4 separate regions of the Homo sapiens genome follow, and regions 1, 3 and 4 are each reported to be linked to region 2. Evidence: microRNA targets listed by miRTarBase, many of them from high-throughput screens and not tested one by one. Region 2 holds a microRNA gene; each other region holds the end of a gene's coding sequence.
The links. The annotated mature microRNA hsa-miR-1233-5p reads AGUGGGAGGCCAGGGCACGGCA and lies in region 2 at 4,584-4,605, opposite strand. An mRNA with a match to its seed (bases 2 to 7 or 8) in the 3' UTR can be bound and repressed. Matches are read on the target gene's strand: a 7mer-m8 pairs with bases 2 to 8, a 7mer-A1 pairs with bases 2 to 7 and ends in A, and an 8mer does both.

Region 1 (7,113 bases), not on the chromosome of region 2:
GGCGGCGACGGCGGCGGCGGCGGCGGCGGCAGCTAGGGAGCTTCTGTCCAAGGTTCTGCAGGCACCGCAGCCCCGCCCCCCGCTCGGCCGCCCGCACCTTCGCCGCCGCCGCCGCGCTCCCGCTCCCGCTCCCGCTTCCGGCGCGCGCCTCAGCGCCCTCCCTCGCGGGGCGCGCGCGCCGTCCACGCTCCGGCCTGGTCTCGCCGGGGAGTCGCGGCCGTTGGTGTCCTCAGCTCGAGCCGCGCACGGTGCGGGTAGGACGCGGCAACGAGCGGGAGGCACCTCTACGCGCCGGGCCCCATCTAGGAGCCGGACTCCGCGGCTGCGGCGGGACACGCGGCGTCGGCCCGCCCCGCCCCTCGGGGCCGCCCCTCCCGCACAGCTCGCCGCCCGCTCCGCGCCGCCGCCCAACAGCAGCCCGGCCGCCGGAGAGTCCTCGGCGCCCGCGCAACCCAACTCTGCCGACGCGGGGCGGGCGCCGAGCAGGGCGGAGCCGAGGGCCGACCCCGCCCGCGTCCCGCCCAGACACGTGCTGCCTTTGTTCCCGCCGCGGCGCCCGCAGCTGCCGGCCGCGGGGGCACTCTCGGCCGAGTCCCTGCCCTGGCAGCGCGCGGCCCGCCCTCTCTGAGGCTGCCGCCCTGGCCTGGTGAGGAGCCCTCCGCCGAGGCCAGGGTCCGGAGCTCCCTCCTTCCACCTGACATCCCCGTCCCTGTGGAAAGCAGCCAGGGAGCGCGGGGAAGAAGGCCCTGGGCGGGGAGAGGCGACGCCTTTACTGAGGCCTCCCGAGTGCCACGCGCACCTCGAGTGGACAGTCCAATCGGTTCTGGCCACCCCTCCGGGGCCTCCGTTCCCTCATCATGGGTAGATGACCGCGGCCGAAGTGGGCCTCAGAGATCCAAGCCAGAGAAGCGTGGCCCGTAGCCAAGCCTGAGCCCGTCACAAATATGACCTCTAAGTTCCCACTCGCCCTCTTATTTGTCATATTAAAGCTGAAGCAACTGCCCCTCCGGCCAGCTTTCTGACCCTCTTAAACGTTTTCAATTCTAAGTATGTATAATTTGAGAACTTGATGCTAGCGAAATTGAGTAAAATTCTGTTTCTGAAAGCTGTTCCTGTCAGATGTGAATCCAGATCCTTCACAAAGGCTGTTGTTCATTTACTATTTTACCTTGTTTCTGGAGATCGAGTCAAAACTGACCACAAACCTGGGAAACAGGAAACTTAAGCCCTGTCTTAATCCAGATTATCTCTGGACCTAGAGATGAGGGAGTGGCTCTCCAGAGGAGAGGATGCCACCCAGTTACCTGACCACTCCAGCCGACTAGGCTTTCACCAGCCCTGTCAACTGTCCTAGGGGGAACAGAAAGGGAATCTGGCATCATTCAAAATGGTGCAATCAAGGCAGAAAGTGCTGGGTTTTGTTTATGTGCCACTCAGATTTCTGTCAATAGGAATTCCAGGCTTTAGGAACCTTGGGGGGCAAGGCATACAGTGGAAAATGCATTGCTCTGTACCCAGAGGGCTACTTTGTCCACAGCCTTTCAGAACATCCACAACAGCTGTTATGGGAACTCAGAAGAGGAAGGCAGGCCCCCAGCTCAGTGCGCCCCTCCCTGTGAATGTTCCTCAGTGTACAAGCCTACCTGCTCTTCAAATGGAGCTGTCCTCAACCCTCCTGCATGTAACAGTAAGAAGCCAGAAGAGGCCGACGCAGTGGCTCATGCTTGTAATCCCAGTATTTTGGGAGGCCGAGGCGGGTGGATCACCTGAGGTCAGGAGTTCGAGACCAGCCTAGCCAACATGGTGAAACCCCGTCTCTACTAAAAATACAAAAAAAATTAGCCAGGCGTGGTGGCAGGCACCTGTAATCTCAGCTACTCAGGAGGCTGAGGCAGGAGAATCGCTTGAACCTGGGAGACAGAGGTTGCAGTGGGCCGAGATTGCACCATTGCACTCCAGCCTGGGCAACAAGAGCGAAACTCCATCTCAAAAAAAAAAAAAAAAAAAAAAAAAAAGCCAGAAGAAACGATTTGCTTCGAGACCCTGACCAAGTGTCCCTTTTCCTTCTCAAAGGAAAGCCGAACCCCAGCCTCTTTTCCTCAGCCCTTACTTGGAGCCTCTAGCTCCTGAGTTGGCTCTGTGCCCCCCTTCAGATTCTAGTGTTGAGCCAAGGTTAAATGTTTTCCACTTCCCAAAATATGTCCAAATTTTGAAGCCTATAATCCACCCCGGCCAGGCGTGATGGCCACACTGTGTCCAGCAGTTTCAGAGGCCAAGGCGGGCGGATCACCTGAGGTCAGGAGTTTGAGACCAGCCTGGCCAACATGGTGAAACCCGTCTCTACTAAAAAAATTAGCTGGGCGTGGTGGCGGGTGCCTATAATCCCAGCTACTCGGGAGGCTGAGGCAGGAGAATAGCTTGAACCCGGGAGGCAGAGGTTGCAGTGAGCTGAGATTGTGCCACTGCATTCCAGCCTGGGTGACAGAGTGACACTTCGGCTAAAAAAAGAAAAATCCACCCCCTAGAAAAACCTGGGCCCACTCTGTTACCTTTAACTCTCAATCTCAATTCTAGCTATTCCAATTCACGGGGAGGCGGACCAAGCTCACCCCACTACCCTGCTTCCCACTCTGCAGCAGCATGCCTCTGCATGGGCCTTTTCAAGCCAGGCCATACCCTGTGTCTTCTCACCTTTGTCCAGCCAGCCTTTCCCTAGCACCTTCAAACAGAGCTCTCGGCAGAACACCAGCCTCCTCACACTTGCCCAAGGCAAAGTCACAGTTGCAGCACAGCAGGAATGGGATGGCACTGGCAGCCCACTTGCTGCTGCGACTAAGGGAGGGGTCTCCAGGAGCTCCTATCACCCAGGCCATGCCTGTTATGCTGGTTTTCAGACACCACAGAGCTCCTCTTTTCATTCAACCCACCACCACCTCCCCACCCCCAGTTCCTATCACTGCTCCAACTGGAAGCAAGGAAGAAAGGACAGTCAACTGCCAGAAATGGCAGAACCAAGGACCCAGAAGGCAGACCCAGTTGAATGAGGCAGAGCTGTTTTCTTCCTAGCTGCCTTCATCATAGAACTGCAGGGAAGATTTCCAAATCCCACCCCCATCAATCAGCCTACTTAGCCTATTGCCTATCTCTAGCTGCCTGAAGGGCCAGCCTGCTTGTTAGCTTCCCTGCTGGGCTGGGCTGCCCGTGGACTGCCGGAGAGTCCACTCTTCCTGCATGCCCCACTTCCCATAGCATCCCGAGGGAGGGAGGTCAAGGCGGGGGCCAGCTACAGCTTCCAAGAAGGGTTCCAAATAGAGCAGGCCTGAGCCCTTACTCCTGAGGAAGTCGGCTTTGTTCTTTCAGGGATCACAGAGCAGCATCTAGTGGCCCTTCTGAGCAGCACAGATTACATAACTAGCACACAGCAGGGGACCAGAGCCTCTGCTCCCAACTCCAGTAGAGTCTCATTAACACACAAGAAAGTCCTGGCACCATGAAGGCTGGAGCCCAGAAGGGAGGTGAGGGAGCCGGGCCCAGGCCAGCCCACCGGCCAGCTGACCTTCCCAGCTGTGCCTGGACTCAGGTCATGAGAGGCCTGGGAGAGGAGGCAGTGACACAACTGCTGGTCCTGGAGGTCTAGAGCTGCGCTGTCCAGATAGAAGCCACATAGGTAACTTTATATTTTCTAGCAGCCACATTACACAAGTAAAAGGGAAACAGGTGAATTTTAATAATATATTTTATTTAACCCAATACCCAAAATATTTCAACACATATATAAAAAAGTTATTGACATATTTTACACTCCTTTTCTTTTGTTATCATACTAAGCCTTCGAAGTCTGGTTTGTGTTTACACTTGCAGTGTATCACAGCTCGAACCAGCCACGTTGCAAGGGCCTGACAGCTGCACATGGCTAGCGGCTACATATTGGACAGCACGGGTCTAGAGGGCATCATCTGACCAAGACCCGCAAAGGGAACTGAGAAAAGGGCTACTGCCTGAGCATCTCAGGACTGCCCTAAGTTTGAGAAAACATCTCCCCTCTACTCCAAAACTAGATCTCTTTGGAGTACTTTTTAAAGTCCTTTATAGAAGCAAAGCTCTTTCTGCAAGTGAAATACAGAGACACAATACTAAAACTGACAATGGCTGAACTGCTCAGACTGAAGAGGATTTAGCAGGTCCCCCAGTGGTCCCAGAGCCCCCCGCCCCCGCCAGGGTGTGAGGCAATATGAAAATCGCTGCCTTTGAAGATTCCAAAAGGAAACGAAACCACAACTGCATGTCAGGACTCTCCAGACACCTGCACGTCTATGACTTACTAAGCTTCACATCACAATCACCTGCCAAGGAAGCAGCATCCTCACTGAGTAGAAGAGAAAGTAGGCTCAGAGGATCTACTGCCCAAACTTACATGTGCTCACTGGACCATGCTGCCCTGGAAGAAGACACCTGAACTCATTTCCAACCTCAGAACTCACACACCAACTTTCTTGCCCCCAAAGCCCTCCAAGTTTGGACCCCAAATTTACCTTAAGGACTCCCATTACACAAATGAGATAACAGCTTTGGCCAGATGAGAGCTAGACTAGTGTGGGGCCACACAGAGCTGTCTGGACTTGCTTGGAAGCCCTCCAGCACTCAAGAAAAAGACACCTTTTGAAAAAAAAAAAAATTATTTTTATTGGAACTCATCTGAACATCAGATATACCTGGTGTTGGTTAGCAAGAACCGTTTGTACATTTGATACTGATGGTGCCAAAACCAAAACAGTGACTAGACATGATGGGGAAAGATGTTGAGAACAAAAACCTGATTTTGGAGAGGAAAATAAAAGCCAGTCAGATTCAGTGAGGATGCAAAACCTGGTACAACAAAATCCTTTTACAAAATATAAATTTATTATGAAAACCTGGAAGGATAATCCAAGGAAGGTAAAGAAAGAGAAAAGGAGGCCAGCAGAAGAAGGCAGGAAGGAGAGGAAAAGAGAAAAAGACAAAGAGGAGATGAGAGAAGAAAATACAGTTCAGCACAACAGAAGTGCAGAAGCTCACCTACCCAAATGGCATTAAAGCCTCGCTGTGTAATCGTGTCAGAAAACAAAGCATACTGACACATAGTGCTCTACTTCCCATCCACTTGAGTTCTAAGAGGTAAATTAAAAAGCTCCCTGGGAAGGGGACATGAGGTTGCTCAAAAACCCAACAAAGAAAATTAAAAAAAAAAGAGAGAGAGAAACCACACCCCACAGTCTCATTTCCGATGTTCATTGTTTAAAAAAGGAATAAATCCATCTGAAAGTAGGAGAGGAGGAGTGGGAGAGGGAGAGAAGCTCATGGCTTTCACAGACAGCCTGACTCCCCTGGAGGGGAGAGGAGGAAGGCAGAGAGACATGATGGTCTCCTGGTTGAGAGGGGAAAGAGAAGGGACAGAGAGGAAAGAAGAGAGGAGAGGAATGCAGGAGAGGAGAAGAGGGGCAATTAAAACACTGACGACTAATCTAGTTTACTGTGTTTAAAAAAAAAAAAAAAGCCACATGCATAGCAGGCCCCTTGGGGGCTAAGGGCCCACACTGCTCCCTGTGTGGCCGTGGTAGACACTAGCTCCTGGCCTCATCCCCATTCCTTCACAGGTCAGAGTGGAGCTATGCAGGCGCTGCTGCTGCTGCTGCTGTTGTTGCTGCAGTGGTGGTGGTGGTGGCGGCGGCGGCAGGACCTTCGGCTACTCTGCTGGAGCCAATGTGGGGAGGGAAGGGCAGACAGGCCGTATGGTAGGGGAAAGAACACCAAAATGCCTCATTTCAAATAAAAAAGAAAACAGCAGTCTATACACAGTTGTTTGTTTTGGTTCAGTACAAACAGAATAAAAAGTCATTGCTTTTGATGGTCAGCAAACACCCAATTCTGAGGAGGAGGAGAGGTGATGCCCAGCAGGTGGATTAGGACCCCCAGTGGTTGGCGGGGTGCCTGGCTTTGCGGCCCTCTCCCAGGAGGCAGAGAGCACAGCTTTAGGTAGTGTAAGCCTTTTTCCTTTTATTTAGAATAATCTTTTTTTTTTTCTTTTTCTTTTTTTTTAAGCAATTTCCCCACTCCCAAGTTGGGCCAGTAAAGATTACATGAAAACTGGCACACCTATTGGCTGGAATACAGATGCACCAAATGAGGATTTAAAAACTTTCCGAGCGAAAAGTAGAACAAAAAGAAAAAAGAATCTCCTAGCATTTTCCCCCAAGGTTTCACTCTCCCGCCACACACACTCTCCAAAGGACCGCTACAGATCCAACTCTGCAAGAGAAGACAGAGCAGTGTCAATCAGGAAGCCATGAGGACACCAGGAGGAGGTTTTCAGTCTCGACACGCAGAAGACAGAGCTGCCCAGCCCTGGGGTCCTGAAGCCAGCACTCACCTATGTCAGTTTCTTGGCTTTGTTGTAGAGGGAATCCACTACTTTGCTCATGTTCTGAATTGTTTCCAGAGCAGCTTCGTAAGTTTTATCTACTGGGGGTTCATCGAAAATAATCAGGACACCCTCCCCCTGGTCCAAAATCCCTGCAAGAAACACAAGGGCAACCCAGGTAAAAGATGAGGTTAGACACAAAAGTGTTTGTGAAGCAGCCCACTCCCTAGTTGACTCACTGTGTCCAGAAAAGAAGGGAAATAGAATTCATCTCCCTATTCCATGTACACATGCTTATTACACATTCTCATCACAGGGAAGAGGGGCCAGGACCCCAGGGTGAACCATCGGGGGAAACAAATAGAACATCTTCTTTGAAAATAAACTTCTTCAACCATCTCATCACCACCACCAGCCCCCTTGCCTGTGTGACTGTTACTTACCATGAAATTTCTTGTCAAGAATCATCTGTGATAATTTCCTTTCCACGTCGGCCTAAAATCAAAGCACATGATTAAAGGGACCAGTATCCACTAGTCAGAGATCACCCTGACACAGTAGCTTTGTTGGAGGGGTCTTAGGCCAAATGGACTGAAAACAAAATAGCAACAATGCAACTCCTACTCTAGTCCACACTGCCCATTCCCCACTGAGAAGCTGGGGAGCTTTCCAATGAGGCCAATCAGGTGCATGTGCCACCCCTCCTCGCCACCCCG
Region 2 (7,113 bases):
ATGGAGTAGCCATTCTTCATTCCTTTACTTTCTTAATAAACTTGCTTTCACTTTAGTCTATGGACTCACCCTGAATTCTTGCTTGGGTGAGATCCAAAAGCCCTCTCTTGGGGTCTGGATCAGGATCCCTTTCTGGTAATGTCTTCTGGTTGAACCACGAAGGGACAATATTGAGGAAACCTCTGACCCAAAGAAAACAGCAATACCAATTGGCCGACTTTGAGTAAGAGGAGGGGTACATTTAACGTGGGTAAAGGATGGAATTGGGTTAGAGGCCCAACTTAGGAGGGTTAGAGTCCCTACTAAGACAGAGTTAAAGGCCTCCTTAATAAAAGGCAAGGACACTTGACCAAACTTGGGTTAGAGGCCCAACTTAGGAAGGTTAGAGCCCTTCCTAAGATTCAGGGGGTTACAGGTTAGAGGTCCCTCTCAGTAAAGTCCCTCTTGGTTAAAAATGGATTTGGAATTATGGGATGTTATCTGCTATTCTCTTTGGATTAATCTGCCTTGCACTGTTTGCTGATGGCTGTGGGTGACAGGATTAGGCATGTACAGGATCACCAGATGTGGGAGCATTTTTCTCCCTAAAGTGGGAAAGATGAGAGCTGATGGGACTGTTGGAAGAGCTCCCTTCATTACTGAAAAGCAGGTGCCTGAACTTTTGATTCAGCGTCGCTGCAATGGGTGGGTCTTTCTCTGGCCTCCCGGAGCTATGTACCCTGCCACAGACAATGCTTTTCTCCCCTTTTCTCCTTTCTCTTTTCTATCTTTTCTGTTACTCAGAGCCAACTGTCTGCTGTTTCATCTTGCCCAGAGACCACATGTTGAAACTCCTGGTTGGAAGATCATTGTACCCCACTTTTCTTTTTAGCATATAATCAAGAAGTAACTAAGTATAATCAGTTGAGCAGCTGATGCCGCTGCTTTGTCTTTGGAGTAGCCATTCTTTACTCCTTTACTTTTTTTTTTCTTTTTTGAGACGGAGTTTTTGCTTTTGTCACCCAGGCTGGAGTGCAGTGGCACTCTTGACTCATTGCAACCTCCACCTCCCAGGTTCAAGCAATTCTCCTGCCTCGGCCTCCTGAGTAGCTGGAATTACAGGCACCCACCACCACACCCAGCTAATTTTTGTATTTTTAGTAGAGACGGAGTTTCACTCTGTTGGCCAGGCTGGTCTCGAACTCCTGACCTCAGGTGATCTGCCCACCTCGGCCTCCCAAAGTGCTGGGATTACAGGCTTGAGCCACCGTGCTCCATGATAACTTTTCAGAAAACTTTTTTCTACTTTTTGCCACAACTTTTTTACATTTTTATCCGATAACTTTTTCACCCCAAAACTTTTTTAATCCCATACCTTTTTTATGTTGTGTTCTTTCAATAAACACTTGCATAGTTATACTACATTTTTGTAACAATGAAACAGATTATCTCATGCCAAGCATGCCCAGTATTTGCACAATATCAATACTTTTAATACTATAGTTTTCAAGACACGCAAAATAAAATTTTAAGGCAAAAACAGCACTTTGCAACAATTTAAAAATTTATTGCATTACAGTAGCATCACATCAGCAGTCAATAATGCCACTTTAAGCAAAAGTCTTTCAGTATTTCCGTTACACATTCTGTTAACAAGAACTCATACATTGGTAAAATTCATTCTAAGAAAACTTGGCAAATAACGCTTTGGCCTGGAATTGGCATTTCTTTCTCTACTTTTCCTTCCCACCATTTCTTCCTTTTAAACTACAGGATTTATATTTTAAAATGTTTTATTTCAGAACATTAAGATAGCAGTTACATTTTTTAATATTTATATTATTTTAAAATGACTCTTTAAGATACAGTTTTAAACCCATGGGCTAGAAATCATACGACTGTTAATTAGCCGCATTATTTGGTCTAACATTTTTTATCATTCTGAAACTGGATTTGTGTAATACATTGATAAATTCATACAATTTGGAAGAGTCAGTTGAAGTTACAAGGACCCAATATCTGCCCTCTTTCAGTGAATGCCGGCAAATCTGTTATTCCATTGGCAAAATCGTATTGCTGCTCTCCTGTTAATCTCACATTTATAAAAGGATCATGAGGCTGCCAAGTGCTAAAAATGGAGATGGTCTAGTAACTAGAAAACTCCCCACCCCAGGGAGCACACCTACATATCTCCCTACAACCTAATAATGTGATGTGTTTTGGAACACAGACATTAGAACTTCATGAAGTTTTAACTGTTGATTCTTTCCCAAGCATCATCAAGTTATGATTTAGGCAATGTATGATTGAAATGCATTCATTCATCATGCATAGGCACAATCACAGAAATATTGCACAAAGTATGTCCCTGACTGAAAATGAGAGGTACAAAAACGTATTTCACTCTTCGTAAAGAAGTTTGTGAGGAAATACAACTCTGCGATCGTATAGACATGTTTCCTGATAATACAGACATTCACAAACAGTAGATTGCACCACAGTGTGTAAACATTTTAAGTTGCATAAACTTCTCCTTGATTTTCAAAGATAATATAATACTGTCTACTAAAATTCCTTTTTGTTTCAACTAAGTACTCTCACATATATTAGTTTATAATAATGTTTGTTATTACTTTCTAAAGTGTTTTCCACTCAAGGAAAAGAAGTAAATTCCTATGTCAGAGTAACCGAGGTGGTTGAAGAATAGGTATTAGCCAGAGAGGTCTAGATAGTAAAATCAAACTTCAAGCCTCAAAGAAGCTCCATGAACAGAGAGGAATGCCAGGTGTCACACAGCTTTCCTTCACTCTAATTCATTCTTGACTAGAGCCTGTATGCCTGTTTCAGAGACATTTAAACTCTTAAAGGATTTCTTATGATCTTCACTAAATACATTAAGAAGAATGCCAACCAGCGCCCTTTCGTGTACTGGGACAGGTAGTCATGTGATTAAAACAGGGAACACGAACTCTGACTTTAAAATGTATTGTAGATACAAATGCTCTAAGCTAGGAAAGGTTTTTCACACCCACAGCCAATGATGGCAGCCTTTCATTCCTCGGAAATAAGCCCTTTTTAGGTCACTGAAAAAGAGTGCAACTGCTGCAGCTCACGATGCAATATCTTCATGAGCCCAGAGCACATACAAATCCAAAGGGAACTGCCACAGTACACTGCTCATTCTTGGCACCGGAACAGATGAAACACACTGTATCCTGCACATACCTGCCAGAGCAGGCCACTTTCCTCTTCTGTGAGATTTAGAAAGCTCCCCCAAAAGGTTATCACTCCCATCACCAATACACAGAAAATGGAGGAAAGGCTGTTTCCAGTTCTCGGCCTTTAAACAGCTCTAAATGTCAGTACTCACAGTGGCATATTACAAAGTAATAAACAGTGCACACTTGAGGGCAAACCGCATATTGAGCTATAGAAGAGCTCACTGTGATTAAGATGAGATCAAACATCATAGCAGAACATTAGCAAATTTTATCTGAATTCTGTAATGGACATCCATGCTGCAATAACATTAGAAAAGCACGGGAGCCTATTCCAAACCAGCGAGAACAGTTTTGTGCAAAGAGTGGGTCTTTGTGTGTTTGAACTCCCACCACGTAAGGGCAAACTCGATATGCATGCTAATGACCTACAATTATGAAATGAAAAAAGAAAAATGCTGAAGGATGCCAGAGTGAACATCAGTGAGAGCCACAGAGACCCACTCTCTTTTAACTTTTTACAAATAAACTTAAACTATAAATTAGAAACACAAATAATCATGAGTAGCTCTAACATTCAAATGAAGTAAATGAATTGTGTAGGAGATTAACCCCATAACTTTGTTTCGTTTTTAAAAATTTCTTGAGCAGCTCTTTGATGATGGTGGTGTTTATCTCCTTCTTCTCGGCAGCCAAGCCCAGCAAAAGCATGGCACACAGCAGTTGCTGCCCAAGCCTGGGTGCTCCTGGTGGTCCTGCATCTCACCAAGGAGCTGCACGACTGGCTGTGCAGTAGGGTTGTCCTGGGAAGAACCCTCCCTGGCTTCTCCTTGTGCAGGCTCCACGCTGTTGGTGAGGCTCGCCTCACAAAGATCTTTGGAGAGAGGGAGGCGGGGATCTGAGTGGAGTGCTAGCCGCCCCCCGCTCCTGCCTGCTCACCCCGCCTGGGGGCTCTACTCACCACCATGCTTGTCGGCAGCCCCGAGCTCCTGGGGGGCTGGGGCTCCTGGACTGGGTTCAGCAGCAGGGTTCCGGGCAGCGGCCAGGAATTTGCCGTGCCCCTCGCTGTAGCTGCCACAAGCCGCAACACCATCTCCTGCAGCTCCAGCAGCTTCACCTGAAGGGACGGGTGCTCAGCTGTCAGGCCGCTGCTGGCGCCCACCCTCATGCCCACCCCACCCACACCCCCACCCCACCCCCACCCCCACAGGGATGTTGCACACCCTACCTTCCTCTCCTCCTTGTCCTGGGCCAGCCTGATGATGGCCTCCTCCCGGTGACGCATCTTTGGCACTGTCCCCTGGCTCTGTTAGAAGGCGATGTACTTTCCTGCGGGAGGACAGGGCTCAGACGCTGGGGCCCCTCCCATAGCCCTGCAGCTCCCCCTGCCGTGCCCTGGCCTCCCACTCACTGATGGCATCTCTCTCTCCGGTACTGGATGAATCCAAGTTCCAGTTTCTCCACATGCTCCCTCAGGTCCGCCTTCTCCTCCAGGAGGTCCATAAGGCCGCTCTGGAGCCAAAATAATGGGGTCACATCTCAGCAGCGACCTGCCCCAGCCCTGCCCTTCTTGGCCCATGCTAGGACTCACTCCCCTCCAGCTTCTCCATGACTTCCTGCAGGGCCCGGAGGGTCTCCCCACTCACAGACTCGCCCCCAGTCCCTGAGGCTGGGACTGCTGCCTCTGGCTCCTTCTCGGCCGAGGTGAGCGTCTCCATCACCTGGCCCAGCTTCTCCTGCAGCTCCTTTACTTGCTGCTCCAACTGCAGTGCGCTCTTGTTCTCGTGCTTCTGGACAGAGAGAAGCAATCAGCAGCCACCCACTGCAGCTGGAGACCCCAGAACTTGGTGTCTGCCTCCCATGGCACCGGGAAGGGTGGAGCCAAGTTAGAAAAATACTCTCCTCTCTCCCACAGCCACCAGAGCAAAGCTCTGGCTCACAGGTGCCTTTGGAAGTAATATTTCATGTGAGGGCTACACTGCCCCATTTTACAGGTGGGGAAACAAAGGCCTGGAGGGCTAGGGAGGAGGGCAGGCTCCCCAGGTGGGGCAACCCACCAGCTCCTCCAAGTCGCTCTGTGGCTCGGCCAGCTGCTGAAGCCTCTTCTCCCGTTCCCGAAGCCTCTCCTGCTGCTCCTGAAGCCTCTCCTCCTGCTCGCGAAGCCTCTCCTTTTGCCCACGGTTCAGGAGACTGATGCACTGATTGTTTTCCACCTGAGCCTGGAGCTCTCCTGCCACTCTCTCCAGCTCCTTCCTCAGGTCTTGCAGCTCCACCTCAGAGGACACTGCTGGGGCATCCGGGGGCAGTGGCTCAGCTGAGAAAGGAAGCAGATCATAAGGGCCTCTGGATTCTCAAAACAAAAATCAAAACAGAAAAAACAACAAAACACCCTCCTGTTGGCGCACAGCTCCTCTCAGGCTCCCAAACTTGGCTTCACTGCTAACGATCCCTCGCACCCGGATGGTAGCCAGTCTTCCAAACCACTTTCAGATAGAGAGCACTGCGGGTGGCTGACAACGGGCCCTCTTTGCTCATGGGGACACTGAGGCTCAGGGAGATGACAAGACTTGTCTCCTGGCACAGACCTCTTTCCCTCTGCCTCAAAGCCCTGCCATCCACCCACCTCCCTGGGGCACTCTAAGCCACCCCCACAGCCCTCTGATGCCAGTCCTGCTCCCAGGTCATGCCAGCCCCATCTTACCCATCTGGTTTTTGAGTCTGGACAAGCTCCTCTCCAGCTCCTCTACCCGATGCGTATCATGCTTCTTCTCCTCCTTCAATGTGCAAACCTGCCCAAAGCACAGGGGGAAAGGGCCCTGGAGAGAGGGGCTGGTGGCTGGACAGGCTCCCATCTCCCTCTCTGCCCCCACCTCCACAAAGCCCAGACCCAGGACCACCTCTGGCTGCACTATTCCCATTTTAAAGAGGCCCAGAAAGATCCAGTGACCTATCTTAAGTTGTTGGTGGGGGGGGGGTGGGGCGGGAGGCTGAAGGGTCAGATCTCACCTCCTGCGACATTTTCCTCATCCTCTGCTGCCACTGGGCCCTCTCTCCTTTTATTTGTTCAGCATATTGATCTCTCTCCAGCTGGACTTCTTTAAGCGACTCCTTCAACTGCAAGAATGGCCACACAAGTTAGGAAGGGCCGTCACTGGTCCTCACCTGCTCCTGGCCACCTGGGGTCATCTTCCTTCCACATCCCTCCCTCTGCAAAACCTCACCTGTGTCACGTGTCCTTTCAGCAGTATCTGCTCCCGTATGGACTGCTCTAACTGCCGCTTGAGAAGTGCTTTACTGCGGCTCGAGAACTGGATGGTGAAGAGTGAGAAGTTTCGATCTGGGGAGCCTGGGCCATTCCACACAGTGCCCCTTAAAAGGGCTAGGGCTAGGCTCAATATACAACTCGGTCAGTAAAGATCAAGGCATTTCCAAGCCCGTGGTCTGGTTTTGAAAAAAACTCAGTGAAGTTGGAAGGGACAAGGAGAGAGATCAGATAATATTGCTATTGTTATTACTCCCACTGTTTGAACCTTTGTGGAGTGCTTCAGCAGGTACCTTGCTAGCAATCCCATTTAATCCTCGCAACCACCAGAGGAGACAGTTACTATGATGCCCTCTCTTGGGTAGATGAAAAAACATGGAGTGTTTGAGGTTAAGTGCTTGCCTAAGATCACTTAGGCAGAGCTAGGATTTGAACACCCAGGTCTATCAGATTCTCTAAGCCCATTTTTCTGCTGGGGGTGGGGGCACGGTTAGGAAGGGGAAAATTAATCTTTTGTTCACTTTTTGAAAAGATGATACATTCACATAGTCCAAAACTCGGAAGGTATCAAAGGGAAGTATCTCCCAGCCACCCTGCTGCTCTCTCCTGAGTTGTTTACGAACACTTGCAGACATGTTTTATGTATATTATCAT
Region 3 (7,113 bases), not on the chromosome of region 2:
GCGCCTTGCACGAGATCTACTCCTACATCACCAAGTACAAGGATGAGGTGAACACCGTGGGAGCCCACAGGCTGGGCTAGGAGGGCTTGCCGGCCCCTGCCAGAGTCACCTGCTCTGCCCCGCCCTGCCACTCCTCCCTGAATCTCTGGGCTGCCACTGACCACCTTCACTCCTCTGCACCCTCTGGCCACCTGGTTCCTTGGGGCCAGGAGGGAGCCTGCCAGGCCGAGCAGAGAAGGCCGTGGTGGAGTCACTGTGTGCAGCCATGTGGGGTCAGGGGTGGGGAAGATGGGATGGCAGCTTCTTCCTGAGGCAGAGGGTGTGTGGGTGGTGAGCAACTTCCCTGAGGGGCTCATTTCAGGGTTTTCTAGTCTGGGCCAGCATCTCCAGGGCTGGGCATAGGCTCTTGGCAGAGCTTTCCTTTCAGTATCTTTTCTGCTGACTTGGAGTGAGGCCACGTACATGGACCTGGGGACGGGGTCCAGGAGGTATCCAGGAAGGAGAACTGGCTCCTGGGCCGCACAGGATGGGAGCACGGGGCCAGAGGGCAGGACAGTCTCGGCCTGTGCCAAGGCTCTGAGGGCTAAGAAGGCCACGGGAGTGAACCAGAGCCACCCTGGGGAGGCCAGGGCAGGTGCAGCAGAGGCAAGGAACCTTCCCCAGGGTGCCACAGGAGGCAGACAGGAGGCAGAGGGCTGTCCTCAGGCAGGTGCCCCAGGGGAGCAGAGGAGCAGCCAGAGACTGCATGTATTAGGGTGGGGAGTGGGGACAAAAGCCTGGGGTCCTGGGGCTCACCAGGGAAAGGGGAGCTGAGGCTCTCTGGGGAGCTCTGCTTTAAAGGGGCACAGAAACCCCAGGGTGTGAGGACTGGGTGGGGACATGTCAGCAGCATGGCCAGGCAGCCAAGGGATCAGAGCCTGCTGTTTTAGGGGGTGAGAGTAGGATGATGACAGGGGCAGGGCTCATTCTCCATATTGGGGTCCTGGAGGGTCCAGGCTCACAACCAAGGTCCTTTGGCCAGGGGTAGATGGGGTTGAACCTCTGGCACCTACTCTGGAGGCATCTGCCCTGGGCCTGCTGAGTGCATGGAGGCTGGTGGCCCGGCATGCTGACAGTTCTCCTGGCCCTGCAGATCCTGGCAGCCCTGGAGAAGGATGAGCAGGCGCGGCGGCAGCGGCTGCGGAGCAAGCTGGAGCAGGTGGTGGACACGATGGCCCTGAGCAGCTGAGCCCCAGCTGTGATCATCCAGCATGATGCAGCGTGAGGACAGCTGAGCAGGGACCGGGACAGCCCTCACCGCATGCGTGTGGAGTGTCCGGTGGTGCTCGGGCCGCCGCAGTGCAGCGACTGCCCGGCCCTCCCTCCCCTGCCTCACCCGGTCGGGTCCCGGCTCTTCCTGTGTGGAGGTGATGGTACCTGCCACACCACAGCTGCGCACACAGCTGCTTGCTCAGGGGCCGGGACAGCACTGGGTGCTCAGGCTGGCCAAGGACCTTCATTGCCTGGCAAGAGCTGCCCAGTGGCCTTCATGGGAGAAGGGCTGACCTCTGAGGGGCTGAGGGGTGAGGCCAGGGCCCTCCAGGGGGAGGGGTAGCCAGCTTGGGCTGTCCCCTTGAGACCAGGACAAGAGGCTGGGGGTGTCAGCATTCCCAGCTTTCCAAGCTGCCCCCAGGCGGCAGAGTCTGAGGGTCCCGGGGCCCGGTTGGCAGCTGGAGAAAGAGGCAAAAAGCCCGTAGCCGGGCAAGAGGAGCTCAAGTCGGTCTGGGCCCGTTGCCACCGACTCCCACCTCCAGCACCCATGCCCGCTGCACCGCTGCCATCCTCAGATTCACCGCGTGCTCTGCGCGGCCGAGGCCGGAGCACCACATCCACCTCGCCCCAGAGAGGCTCTGCTCCCTCCTATGGAGGGGCTGTGGGCCAGGCTGCTCAGACTCCTGGGTGGCTTCCAGACGGACCGGGCAGCCCCTCTCCGTCCTCAGGGCTGTGCCTCTGGGAGCCACTGGGCCAGGGGCCCCGGGTCGCAGAGAGCACGTTCCCGTTATTTATTCCCCTCCGCGTCCTACACAGGCTGCCCTGGCAGCTGTCTTCAAGGGTAGGCTGAGCTCCCCACCCTGGAGCCCCTGAGGGCGGCCCCTGAGCACTCCTCTCTCTCCACTCTCTCTGTCCCTGCCCCAGCGGCTTCCAGTGTGGCATCTCAGCAGTGTCCTGGCCCCTCCAGAGCAGTGGGACATCTGGGGACTGTTTTTGTGTTTAGGGGAAAAAATTCTGCTGCACTCTGCTTGGGCCTTGAGGTCTGTGGCAGGGCTCCTCTGGCCCGCAGTGGCCTGGATCTATCTGGGCCATGAGTGACGGGCAGTGACCAGAGGGACTGGAGGCCAGCGGTGTCCACCCTTGCCCTCAGCAAGAGAGAATGCATTCTTAAAAGAAAGCTGTACATGTATATATATGCATATATATATATGTGGCTCTAGCCTCAGGCTCCAGCCCCAGTGGGGTACTGTACAGTTAACTGAAGAAGAATTTTAAAGACGATTTGAACAAGAAAATGAAGGCAGTGGGAAAGCAATGCCAAATGGTTGTGGAGAAAGTGGCCGGAGCCTCCCTGGAGTGGAGCAGCCCTGAAGCCTGTGCCCCCCGACCTGCGGGCCGCTGTTTTGGTTTGACATGACAAGGAAAGGACTTCCTGCTGACCCTGAGAGCCTCTGGGGTGCCGCGGCACCACGGGGCATGCATGATTGTGCTAGCGTTTAGTCTGAGTTGATCTTTTTAAAACTGCAAGTGTTGAATACTAGAGGTTGTTAGACCCTTTTTTATGTTTTTTAATTAATCAGTCACTTGTAAAAGCAAACAAGCGGTCCATCCCCTTTTCAAGGTCACTTTTTTGATGGTACCGAAGATCCCATGGACATTAAGGGACAGCTAACTGTGGCCAGACTCAGCCCCATGTCCTTGGCCAGGCCCAAGGAGAGGACTCGGCCCCATGGGGTGTGCCAGTCTTGCAGTCCGCCCCAGCTGAGTAGCGTGAGCCAGATGACGCCACAGAGACCCGCCTCTTCCCTGAACGCGGGTCGGTGTGGAGTCAGTGACTGCTGACTCAGGGAGCTCCTTGGCCCCGTGGGCACTGTGCCAGGGCTGGGGCCTTCTGCTGCTGCCACACCCAGCTCAGGCCTGGGCCAGCCCCTGCCCCCAGCCCACTGAGGGGGTGGGCTTACTCCCTGGGCAGTCTTGGGGGCCAGAGCTGAGGCCAGTCCATATTACAGTGGCTGGGCTGTTTTTTTCAGTAGCCCCTAGCATTGGCTGGGATTCCTGTTCCTGGGTGCGCCTCCACCTCCCTTCTGATGTTTCCTGGCTATGGTGGGGTGGGAACCTCAGTTTCCCCCAAAGTCTTCCCTGGATGCTGGCTTCAGGTTGAAGTCCCTGGTTCTTCCAGTTCCTCACGGGTTAGGTAGGGGCTCCTGCATCACCTTCAGAATCCAGTTCCAACCCCCACTCTCCTTAGGCCTTGTGCTCTGCTCTGCCCTGCCAGGCTGCCCTTGTCCATGTGAGTAGCATGGGCGGGTGGTGGGGACGGCAGTGGTGATGAAGGGGGTGCACCACAGGCCTCATGAAGCAGTTCCCACATGGGCGTGTGGCTGGGGCGTGGCCACCACAGAGCACATGGCTGTGTCTAGGCGCAAGCACTTTAGCAGTATCTGTTTACATGCGCAAGGATCAAGCCGACTACCTGTGCTGTCTACTGGGACAGCAGTCTCCGAGCTACTCCGTACCTCCCTCTGCCAGGTCGTGGAGTTAGGCCCCAGTCCCTACTTGTCACTGGTTCCCACTGTGCTCCTAACTGTGCAGCACCTGGGAGCTCTGGCCTGGGGCTGGAGGCCCTGGTAGGAGCTGCAGTTGGAGGCCGTTCTGTGCCCAGCAGCGGTGAGCGGCTCCCATGGGCCCTGTGTCTGCAGGGAGCCAGGGCTGCGGCACATGTGCTGTGAAACTGGCACCCACCTGGCGTGCTGCTGCCGCCACTTGCTTCCTGCAGCACCTCCTACCCTGCTCCGTGTCCTCCCTCTCCCCGCGCCTGGCTCAGGAGTGCTGGAAAAGCTCACGCCTCGGCCTGGGAGCCTGGCCTCTTGATATACCTCGAGCTTCCCCTGTGCTCCCCAGCCCCAGGACCACTGGCCCCTTGGCCTGAGGGGCTGGGGGCCCCACGACCTGCAGCGTCGAGTCCGGGAGAGAGCCCGGAGCGGCGTGCCATCTCGGCTCGGCCTTGCTGAGAGCCTCCGCCCTGGCTTTCTCCCTGTCTGGATTCAGTGGCTCACGTTGGTGCTACACAGCTAGAATAGATATATTTAGAGAGAGAGATATTTTTAAGACAAAGCCCACAATTAGCTGTCCTTTAACACCGCAGAACCCCCTCCCAGAAGAAGAGCGATCCCTCGGACGGTCCGGGCGGGCACCCTCAGCCGGGCTCTTTGCAGAAGCAGCACCGCTGACTGTGGGCCCGGCCCTCAGATGTGTACATATACGGCTATTTCCTATTTTACTGTTCTTCAGATTTAGTACTTGTAAATAAACACACACATTAAGGAGAGATTAAACATTTTTGCTAAAAGCTCTTGGCTCCAGGTTTTCCTTGCTGGGAAGCAGGGGCGGCCGCAGGAGTGCAGCCACATCCCAAACACGGAAGCATATCTCCCTGGGAGACTCAGCCACACCCAGGACAGATGGCCACACTCTGTGAGTTGGGTGCGCTCAGCCCAGGTGACACATTGGAGCCCTTGGCGGAGACTAAAACACCAGTGCCTGACCCCCACTGGAGCCTTGGAGCTTCAGGGGTCTGAGCGGTGGTCACTTTTAGATGCTTCCCAGGCGATTCTCCCGTGACCCCTAGCTCAGAGCAGTGGCTTCCAGCCCATGCCGTGAGGCAGGAATTCCTGGGTGCCTTGTTAACTAAAATCAGATTCTGACCCCGAGGGGCCCATGAGCGACAGCCTGGGGGAGCTGAGGCTGCAGTCCTGGGCCCCCTGCCTTCAGTAGCCAAGGCTGGAATTGTGTTTCCCAGACTCGCAGCCAAGGAACCGGGTTTGAGAAATGTTGGTCTTTCCAGCAGAGACAGGCTATGCTGCTTCATCTCATGAAAATGTGTACAGATACTAATGATGGAGGTGTGGATGCAGCTTCTGCCAGTGCATGGCTTTGGTCAGTGGCCCCGTCCCTGGGCTCATTTCATCCATGGCTCAACAGGGGTGGCTGCTCCTGCCGCAGAGGGTGGGTGCAGGGTCAGGTGTGACACATCCCCAAGGGCCCTGGGCACCTGCTCTGCAGCTGCGCCTCCAGGCAGACCCCAACCTGGACCGTCTGAGCACTGCCTGTAAGTGAACTCACTGGGACTTCCCGGCAACCCTGGGAGGTTAGGGGCAGCTGCACCTGCAGCTGAGGAATTGAGGCACACAGAGGTTGCACAATGTGTCCCAGCCACATGGTGGTAAGCAGCAGCCCGCCCAAACGTAGGCCCTTGGGACCCCAGGCCCTCCCCACCGCCCCCAAGCTCCCACCTGTCTCCCACCAGCCTCTCCATGAACTCGTTCCCAGGGCTGACAGTGGCCCATAAGTCATCAACAATACCTCCCACTCTCAAACAGGCGCATCTTGACAGTGGGGCTGCAAGCACAAGCTCTGTGCCAGGCTCAGTAACTCAAGAGAAATCAGTGTAATCACCACGAAATTGTGTCGGAAACAAATTTAGCAAATGTGGTCCCGTTTAGGGTGTGACGCAGCCTGTTCTCATGGCTCAGTCCCCTTCAGCTTTTTTCCGGCACAATCAGCCCATCCTCAATTACCCTCATTAGGCCTCCAAGGGCTCCAGCCCATCAGCCTGGAAGCTGAGCCATCTCTGAGCCGCAATCAGCGCTCGCTGTGCGAGTGATCGGGCGCAATTACACAGCAGCGGTGATGGGGCCTTCTGATTGCTGCTTGAGTGCGCTGGCTCCTGAGGGTATTAAACCATCAGCTATTAATGCTGGTGGCTCTGAGCAGGGCACCTGGATGGGCTTGCTGCAGAGCAAGGGCGAGGCCAGCCTGTGGGCCTGGGTGGGATGGAGGCACCCTCCACCCAGAGCAGATCCAGAGGTGACTTCAGACTTCCCACCTGGACCCCAGAGCAGCCACAGCTCAAGAGCAAACACAGGCTCTGAGCAGAAATAAAAAGTAACAGGCCAGGCTAAAACCTGATACAGTGACTATAGATGGTGTCTTGCCCTGAAGAAAACTGGTGGCATGGGAGGGTGCCCACCTGGCCAAGTGGGCAGGGAAGGCCTGAGGAGGGATGGAGGAATCGAGGCTTGAGAAACAAGGAGCCAGCTGAGGTGACATCGGAGAGAGCATTCCCTGTGTCCAGAGCAATGGAAGAGGCCAGGTCAGCTCTGTGCAGGGAGGTGCAGGAGGTGCTGTGCCTTGGGGAGCGAGGAGGGTGGGCTCTGATTCGCGCGTCTGGCAGTCGCGGGACAAGGCCAGAGGAGGCTGGAGACCAAGAGGCTCCTGCAGGTATCCCCAGGGCCCGTGGCCCGTGGCACCCCTTTGGGGCCTTCCTGGAGAGCCATCAGCCCTGATGGTGGAGCTTTGGGGGCAGATGTGTTCTTTCTGAGGACAACAGTCATGGAGTTGTCGGTGGAAGTGACTTGGGTCATATCCAGGCTGAGCCTCTAGTCCTGGAGCAGAGCCTCCAGCCAGCCTGCACTGGGCACATAGGCAGGTGCACCATAGACCTTTGGGGAATGGGACACGGATGCTGGGGAGTGGTTTCTGCAGCATACAAGGCTGCCGGGCTGCAAGTCAGTACCAGGACCAGCCCCATTGTAGAGGGGAGAACCTGGGAGCAGAGAGGTAAAGTCACTACCCTCAAGGACACACCGTTACCCATGGTGGGACCAGGATTCAAACTCAGACTCTCTACTTCATGCTGCAGCACTCCTCTAGTGGTCTCCATGCTGGAGACTCCTTGAGGACAACACCAGGGCCTGATACCCAGAGTCTGGACACAGAGCAGAGGGGCGTGAGCAGCTGGCAGTGAGCAATGCCCTGGGGCCTCGGGAACTTTGAGGAAAGCATGTTCTCAGGAGCATTTCC
Region 4 (7,095 bases), not on the chromosome of region 2:
ACAAATAAGACTCTTGCCTGTCAACAAGATGTTCCGATGTTGGAGGAGGGCTCCAAAGCTGGGGGCAGGGAACCCATAGGCCTGGTATTGCTTTCTCTTGGTTCTGCAATGGGAAAACCCAGGGTGAATGTGGCCTGCCTGGTTCCACTTAGATAGGTGAGCAGAAAAGCTCAGGTTGGTCAAAGTCCCTTCCAGACAGTGTTTGCCCAGGGCACTGTGAGCTCTTCAGACTTCCCTGGCACTCACCCTGTCTGCCTCCTGGGGTTTCAGGTGTACCAGCTGGACACAGGGCATTACCTCTGCAGGAACAAGTACTATGGCCGTGGGCTCTCCATTGAAGGCTTCCGCAATGCCCTCTATCAATATCTGCACAATGGCCTGGACCTGCGACGTGACCTGTTTGAGCCTATCCTGAGCAAACTGCGGGGCCTGAAAGCTGTGCTGGAGCGGCAGGCCTCTTACCGCTTCTACTCCAGTTCCCTGCTTGTCATCTATGATGGCAAGGAGTGCCGGGCTGAGTCCTGCCTGGACCGCCGGTCTGAGATGCGTCTCAAGCACCTGGACATGGTGCTCCCTGAGGTGGCGTCATCCTGTGGCCCCAGCACCAGCCCCAGCAACACCAGCCCCGAGGCGGGTCCCTCCTCTCAGCCCAAGGTGGATGTCCGCATGATTGACTTTGCACACAGCACATTCAAGGGCTTCCGGGATGACCCCACCGTGCATGATGGGCCAGACAGAGGCTACGTGTTTGGCCTGGAGAACCTCATCAGCATCATGGAACAGATGCGGGACGAGAACCAGTAGGCCCTGTTCTGGGCCCCCAGAACCCCTTCCTCTCCACTGCAGGCAGGGACCATTGTTCTGAACTTGCCGTGAGGACACACAGACTTGCTTTTAAAGGGTTATATTTCTCTTTGGTGTAAACTAAAAGAAATGTTTTTAGCTGTAGCCTGGAATCCATATATATAAAGTGAAGGAGGGCAGACCACACGCCCTCTCAGCCAGGCTCCTCAGCTTTGTGGCTCTGACTGGTGTGTCCAGGCTGCCTTAGGAAGGAAGAGGTGCCCCTGGTGGGCTTGGCAGCAGGGACAGGGTGCCCTTGGACATTGGTTTCTCTTGTCTAGATCTTTGAGATCTGTGGCTGCAGGGCCCTGCTGATTGTAAGGTAAAGCCCTGGGCTGGTGCAGGGCCCCTCCACGCCCACTCTTCCCTTGTTCCCCAGAAGTAGAGGGCTCTGGGTGCCCATTTCTTGGGGGCTTTCCAGTCTTATGCTGTGGGTGTCAGCTAGCTCTTTAATAGGTGCCCTCAGGGCACCACAGGGCTGACTGCACAAAGCTGGACCCATCCTTCGGTCTGACCTTAGCATGGGGCTAGATTAATGAAGCTGGGCTGAGGCCAACTTATGGCAGAGGGCGGCGCCTGGGTTCCCCAGGCACCTGTTGGCACGTGACAGGTTGGCACCTGTCCTATTCCTGAAACAGCCTCTCTCACCAAGTTCCCTTGCCTAAGAAGGCCACTCCCTCCCACCCCACTGAAGTGGGGGATAGTCGGTGTCCTAGCAGGCCTCAGGGCCTCTGGTGGCTCTGGCCCAGACAGTATTTGCAGTTCTTGTGCTATGGGTGGGAGTCTTCTTCCTCAAGTTTCGGCAGCTGTGCTGCTGCTGGATGGGCTGCTCCTCCCAGGGCTCAAGGGCTGTGGTCCGCTCAGGGTCTCATTTCCCCAGGCCAAGTTCAAGGCAGCAGCCCTTTGTGAGGCGCTCTTGGCCCTGGGCCTGGAGGGAGAACTTTAAGCTTTTTTGCTCACAGGGACGTGGTATGGGCCCTGGGTGCAGGTGCCCACATTCTGCTAATGAGAGCTTTGTCTGATCAGTCCTGGGTCCATCAGTTTGTCCATGTGTCCGGCTGCCAGCCCGTCCCTTGGGATCCTTCCCCTGGGGTGTAGCCTTGTTCATTAGTATATACTCATTCCTTCATGCTTTCCTCAGCAGAACACTTCCACTTCTGAGGTGAGCTTTTGCCCCATGCCCTTCCTCCACAGGTGTTGCCTTTTTATAAAGACCTGATAGCAGAATAAATTGGTGTTTCCCTGTTGACCCAGCACCATTTCTGTGGGCCTAGAATATGGCCCTCAACCCTTAGAGTGGGGCAGTGAGGGCTTGAGGAGTGACCCTTCCTTTCTCATGGTTTTAGTCATTTTGGCTGCCAGCCCTTAATGGCACAGATCTGCTGCTTCTAACAGATGGCCAGGAGGTGACACCGATTTCAGCCATTGCCAAGGTTAGCACCCTCTCCTTTGAGCCTAGGGCCACACTGTTCATTGTCACTTTAGGCAAGTGCCTGTTTGGCTTTAAAGGTAAGCCTGCCAGCTGTGAGAAGCCTTGGTAACTGATGGACTCATTTCCTGGTCCTTAAAGATGCAGCCTCTTAAGGGCTCCTTGATGGATGCCATCTCTCCTAGCCCCCAGCCCTGGTGCCACTGGTGGGCAGGTTCCCATTCTTTGGGGCTGGGAGGGACAGCTTGCCTGTTTCTGGTCACAAATTACAGTCTTCTCTCCTGTACCATTCTGTGGCTTCAGCCATGGGGGCAGTAGCCCTTCATTAGTGTAGATAGTCATTCCCTGGTAGGGTGGAGGGTAAGACATAGGGTCTGGAACTGTTTGGGACCTTTTGGGGATGTCCTGTGCCTCCCAGATTCCTCGATTCTGGGAGGAGAGGCTGCCGCATTCTGCTGCTCCTCACAGCGAGCAAAGCTGCACCCACTTACATTCAGTATTTTCCTGGCACTACAAAGAGTGGGAAGGCCTGGGATTTGCTGCTGCTCCCTTAGAGCAGGGCCCCTCTTTTCAGCACTTTGGACACCTGGAGACCCAGCCCTGTTATTTAATGGTAGTGGGCAAGTGTGTGTGCATACTGTCTGCCACTGCTTTCTCCCTGCCCCATGCCAGAGAGCCCTGTCCCTGCCAGGCCCAGCCTTCTTAGCCCCAACTTGGGAACAAAGTGCAACATGGGATCATGGGTTGGGGTGCTCAGGTGAGCCCTCTCTATAGTGCTTCCCTGGGCCAAGCTGACACCAGCCCCTGAGGGTGGGGTGGGACGGGTGGTGCTTAAAAGAGGAAGGGGACCAGTGTAGCAACTTGCCAGGGACCCCACCCCTCCCTCTCTGGGCCTGTGCAGTGAGCATGGGGATTCCCATCAAGGGGCCTGGCACCTGTGCTAGTTACGTAGCCGCTGCTCACGCGCTCACTCCTGACCACATGCACGTTCCCTAGATGCAGACTGCTTTGAACTTTAAAGCTGTACAATTTGGTTATGTTTGTGCTGACTTAAAATATATTTTAATGAGGAAAAAATAATGGAGAACCCTGGGAAGGACCTGGTTCTTTTGCTTCTCGGGGAACTGTAAGCCCTCGCGTTCTGGGAATCGCTCTCTGCTGCTCTTTCCTGGAAGCTAAGCCTGTCTCCACCGCCCGAGGCCTGCGCCGGTGGCTCCCGCCGCAGTTGCGTTTGCTTTGGACCTTGCGTGCGGGGGAGGGGGTGCTCGGTCCGAGCCCGCTCCTTTCTGTACACCTAGCGCTGCCCGCCCCGCTTGTGTCTGAGGTCGTGTATGTCAAAAATAAAGCCGCTAGAAACGGAGGCGAGTCTGTCTTTGTGAAAATCCCGTGGCCCGGGAGCCTTCCCTGGTCACCCTCGGGGCGAGGCCGGGGCCGTGGGGCGGGGCCGGCGGCTGCTGGACCGCGGCGAAGCAGGGAACAAGGCCTCGCCCTTGGCGCCAGTTCCGCCTTTGGATCCGCCAATGGCCAGCTGACCCGCGGGTCCCGGCCCGGGTCTCCATGGCAGCCCGGCGTACTCGGGCGCTCATTGGCTACGTCTGTCGCAGCGCTGCGCTCCAACGTTCCGACGCCGGCGGCCGTGCCACGTACGCGGCAGCCGATTGGCCCGCGGTGGTCGCGTCACTGCCCGCGCCGGGTCCGGCCTGAGTTCGGGGCCAGCAGCCGTCTACCCGGTGTCGCGTTCTGTGTTGTGGCGGCCCTGGATCCGGCGTCAGGGCGACCGGGCGGACGAGGTGGAGCCAGAGTCTGTCAGGCGGGTTGGTGAAGGGCGCGGGGCCGGGCACGGCGTTGGGAGTGCGCGGCAGGGACCGGCCAGGCGGGCTGCAGGCACCTCAGAGCCCGGGACACCCCCTCAACGTCCGCAGGCGCGATGAAGGCACTGATCTTAGTGGGGGGCTATGGGACGCGGCTACGGCCGCTGACGCTGAGCACCCCGAAGCCACTGGTGGACTTCTGCAATAAGCCCATCTTGCTGCACCAAGTGGAGGCGCTAGCCGCGGTAAGACCCTGGGTCGGGATCAGAGTCGCGTTCGGATCTGGCGGGACTAGGGATGGCCAGCGACTAGGGGTCAGGGGCTCCCGTACCTTCTGACTGAGCCCGCCCGTCGGCCTGCGTTCTGACAGGCAGGCGTGGACCACGTGATCCTGGCCGTGAGCTACATGTCGCAGGTGCTGGAGAAGGAAATGAAGGCACAGGAGCAGAGGGTGAGGCACAGACTCTTGGCCCTTATTCTCGGTCCCCGCCCAACTTCCCATCCTGGTAGAACCTGACTGGGGGGGCCTCTTCCTTCCAGCTGGGAATCCGAATCTCCATGTCCCATGAAGAGGAGCCTTTGGGGACAGGTCAGTAGAGGCAGAAAGGTCCCTTGGGGGAGGGTTTAAGGCCAGGAAAAGGGTAAGACCCAGCCTGGAGTGGGCCTGCTGAGCCTGAATCCAGGGACTCAGACCTCCAGCAAGGTGGTGACCTGTCCCCTTCCCCCAGCTGGGCCCCTGGCGCTGGCCCGTGACCTACTCTCTGAGACTGCAGACCCTTTCTTCGTCCTCAACAGTGACGTGATCTGCGATTTCCCCTTCCAAGCCATGGTGCAGTTCCACCGGCACCATGGCCAGGAGGGCTCCATCCTGGTAAGGCGCCAGGTCTTCTCTCTCTTGACACTTTCACCCTCCATGCCCAGCCTCCCATGCCCCCTAGCCTTCATCTGCCTTCGGATGTTATGGATACAGAGCTGTGCAGTATGTATCTTTAAGCACTTGGGGCAGAGTCTCTTGAGATCTGGAACGGCATGTGTATCAAGGCTTAGGAACACTGGACTAGGTCCGAGGTCCCCTTCCTTGCATTCAGGTGACCAAGGTGGAGGAACCCTCCAAGTACGGTGTGGTGGTGTGTGAGGCTGACACAGGCCGCATTCACCGGTTCGTGGAGAAGCCACAGGTGTTTGTGTCCAATAAGATCAACGCAGGCATGTACATCCTGAGCCCTGCAGTGCTGCAGCGCATCCAGGTGTGTAGGAGACAGCTGTTGGTGGGCTGGGGTGGGGCAGGCCATCACCGCCATGACCCTGCTCACAAGCTGCCCACTCCCACAGCTGCAGCCTACGTCCATTGAGAAGGAGGTCTTCCCCATTATGGCCAAGGAGGGGCAGCTATATGCCATGGAGTTACAGGGTGAGGCAGGGAGGCCACAGGGTGGGGGTGGTCTGTGGCTGGGCTGAGGCCCCTGATGCATCCCTCCCTACAGGCTTCTGGATGGACATTGGGCAGCCCAAGGACTTCCTCACTGGCATGTGCCTCTTCCTGCAGTCACTGAGGCAGAAGCAGCCTGAGCGGCTGTGCTCAGGCCCTGGCATTGTGGGCAACGTGCTGGTGGTGAGGCCCTTGCCCAGCCCATCATTAACCCCCTCAGTCTTGGGAGACAAGTGGCCCACTTGTATTTTTCCCACCGCTCTCAGGACCCAAGTGCCCGCATCGGCCAGAACTGCAGCATTGGCCCCAATGTGAGCCTGGGACCTGGCGTGGTGGTCGAAGATGGTGTGTGTATCCGGCGGTGCACGGTGCTGCGGGATGCCCGGATCCGTTCCCATTCCTGGCTTGAGTCCTGCATTGTGGGCTGGCGCTGCCGCGTGGGTCAGTGGGTAAGCCTGTGGGCTGGGCTGGGTGGGGAGAGGGGCGGGGAGTGTGCCTGCCTCCCTGACAAGGCCTATCCTCTCCTGGAGGTACGCATGGAGAACGTGACAGTGCTGGGTGAGGACGTCATAGTTAATGATGAGCTCTACCTCAACGGAGCCAGCGTGCTGCCCCACAAGTCTATTGGCGAGTCAGTGCCAGAGCCTCGTATCATCATGTGAGGGGATGCAGTGGGGCTGGCCGAGCCCCGGTTTTCCCATCAGCAAGGGGAGTGCTGGCCTGACACATCAGAAGACCCTGGACTTGTCATTATTTGTCTGGGGGGCACTGGGTGAAGCTGAAGCTGTTGGACACCTGCCTTCTCATGTGGACATCATCTGGCAGGATCCCTGCTGGGCACACCCCACAAACCCCACTCCCTCAAGAAGGGCCAGGGCCAGGGCTGTATGGAATAATAATTTAATGCTCACTGTGGCCCTGACTGAAAGTCAAGCTCAGGCACAATTAGGGCCATGGCTGGGCTCCCACCAATGAGGATACAGGCAGGCAAGGAGGTTGGATGTGGTGGTGTGGGATACAGGAGAAGGGCAAAGGGAGCTCATAAATAGGGCCCAGCCTGGCTCTGGGTTCAAAGGTGGAGGTTCCAGGATGGCACAGGCTGTGAGGGCTAGGCAGCTGAGGAGGTAGTACTCGTATTGGCTCCCTTCTCCCAGTCCTCTACAGACACGATGGTGGTTTTGCAGAAGAAGCAGTCCTTGTTGTTCATCAGGTGCTGGTTGATACAGGCTCTACAACAGGGGAGGGGATGAGGACTGCCCTGCATGTACCTACTGCTCTCCCCACCACCAAGCTGTGGGGCCCACTTACTTGCAGGACTTGTGGCCACAGGGCTGGAACACAGCAGAGATGGGGTGGGCATAGCAGATGGGGCAGAGGTCCTCCTCACTGGTGGGCTGCAGGGAGGAGAGTGAAGGGTGGGCTGGAGTTGGATGCCTGGCTATGTGGATGTCCGTTGTGCCTGTGTAGGAGTGCACACATATTCAAGTGGCATGGACCTGTGCACCGTGTTCCCACTCACCAGGGAGGCAGCTGCTGCCTGGGCAGATGCAGAGGTCAGGTGCGCCAGCATCTGTTCCACTTGG

Region 1: the mRNA of PSMD11 is a reported target of hsa-miR-1233-5p. Seed matches in the 3' UTR shown: 7mer-m8 at 5,316-5,322.
Region 3: miRTarBase lists PLXNA1 as a target of hsa-miR-1233-5p. Seed matches in the 3' UTR shown: 7mer-m8 at 1,781-1,787 and 7mer-A1 at 3,615-3,621.
Region 4: miRTarBase lists IP6K1 as a target of hsa-miR-1233-5p. Seed matches in the 3' UTR shown: 7mer-m8 at 1,521-1,527.

The regions. Positions count from the first base shown.
Region 1 is chr17:32,479,925-32,487,037 of GRCh38, reverse strand. It overlaps PSMD11 (proteasome 26S subunit, non-ATPase 11), which reads right to left. Exons shown (of 14, transcript NM_002815.4): 12 at 6,841-6,892; 13 at 6,407-6,549; 14 at 3,719-6,285. The coding sequence ends at 6,407. It overlaps CDK5R1 (cyclin dependent kinase 5 regulatory subunit 1), which reads right to left and starts at 45. Exons shown (of 2, transcript NM_003885.3): 1 at 1-45. RefSeq lists silencers at 1-45, 156-685 and an enhancer at 758-1,259.
Region 2 is chr15:34,377,543-34,384,655 of GRCh38, forward strand. It overlaps MIR1233-1 (microRNA 1233-1), which reads right to left and starts at 4,608; the gene lies at 4,527-4,608. It overlaps GOLGA8A (golgin A8 family member A), which reads right to left. Exons shown (of 25, transcript NM_181077.5): 17 at 6,419-6,505; 18 at 6,204-6,311; 19 at 5,899-5,986; 20 at 5,255-5,511; 21 at 4,844-4,987; 22 at 4,609-4,709; 23 at 4,426-4,526; 24 at 4,159-4,314; 25 at 1,526-4,071. The coding sequence ends at 3,869.
Region 3 is chr3:127,032,790-127,039,902 of GRCh38, forward strand. PLXNA1 (plexin A1) reads left to right here. Exons shown (of 32, transcript NM_032242.4): 31 at 1-47; 32 at 1,133-4,600. The coding sequence ends at 1,228. Among named protein-coding and RNA genes, the nearest start is that of PLXNA1, 53 kb to the left of the region's middle.
Region 4 is chr3:49,720,831-49,727,925 of GRCh38, reverse strand. It overlaps IP6K1 (inositol hexakisphosphate kinase 1), which reads left to right. Exons shown (of 6, transcript NM_153273.4): 6 at 271-3,632. The coding sequence ends at 804. It overlaps RNF123 (ring finger protein 123), which reads right to left. Exons shown (of 39, transcript NM_022064.5): 37 at 7,032-7,095; 38 at 6,821-6,906; 39 at 6,397-6,741. The coding sequence ends at 6,621. GMPPB (GDP-mannose pyrophosphorylase B) reads left to right here and starts at 3,975. Exons shown (of 9, transcript NM_021971.4): 1 at 3,975-4,328; 2 at 4,454-4,534; 3 at 4,624-4,672; 4 at 4,812-4,954; 5 at 5,172-5,330; 6 at 5,416-5,494; 7 at 5,568-5,695; 8 at 5,779-5,961; 9 at 6,043-7,095. The coding sequence starts at 4,200. The coding sequence ends at 6,174. RefSeq lists silencers at 3,482-3,931, 6,706-6,883 and an enhancer at 4,572-4,671.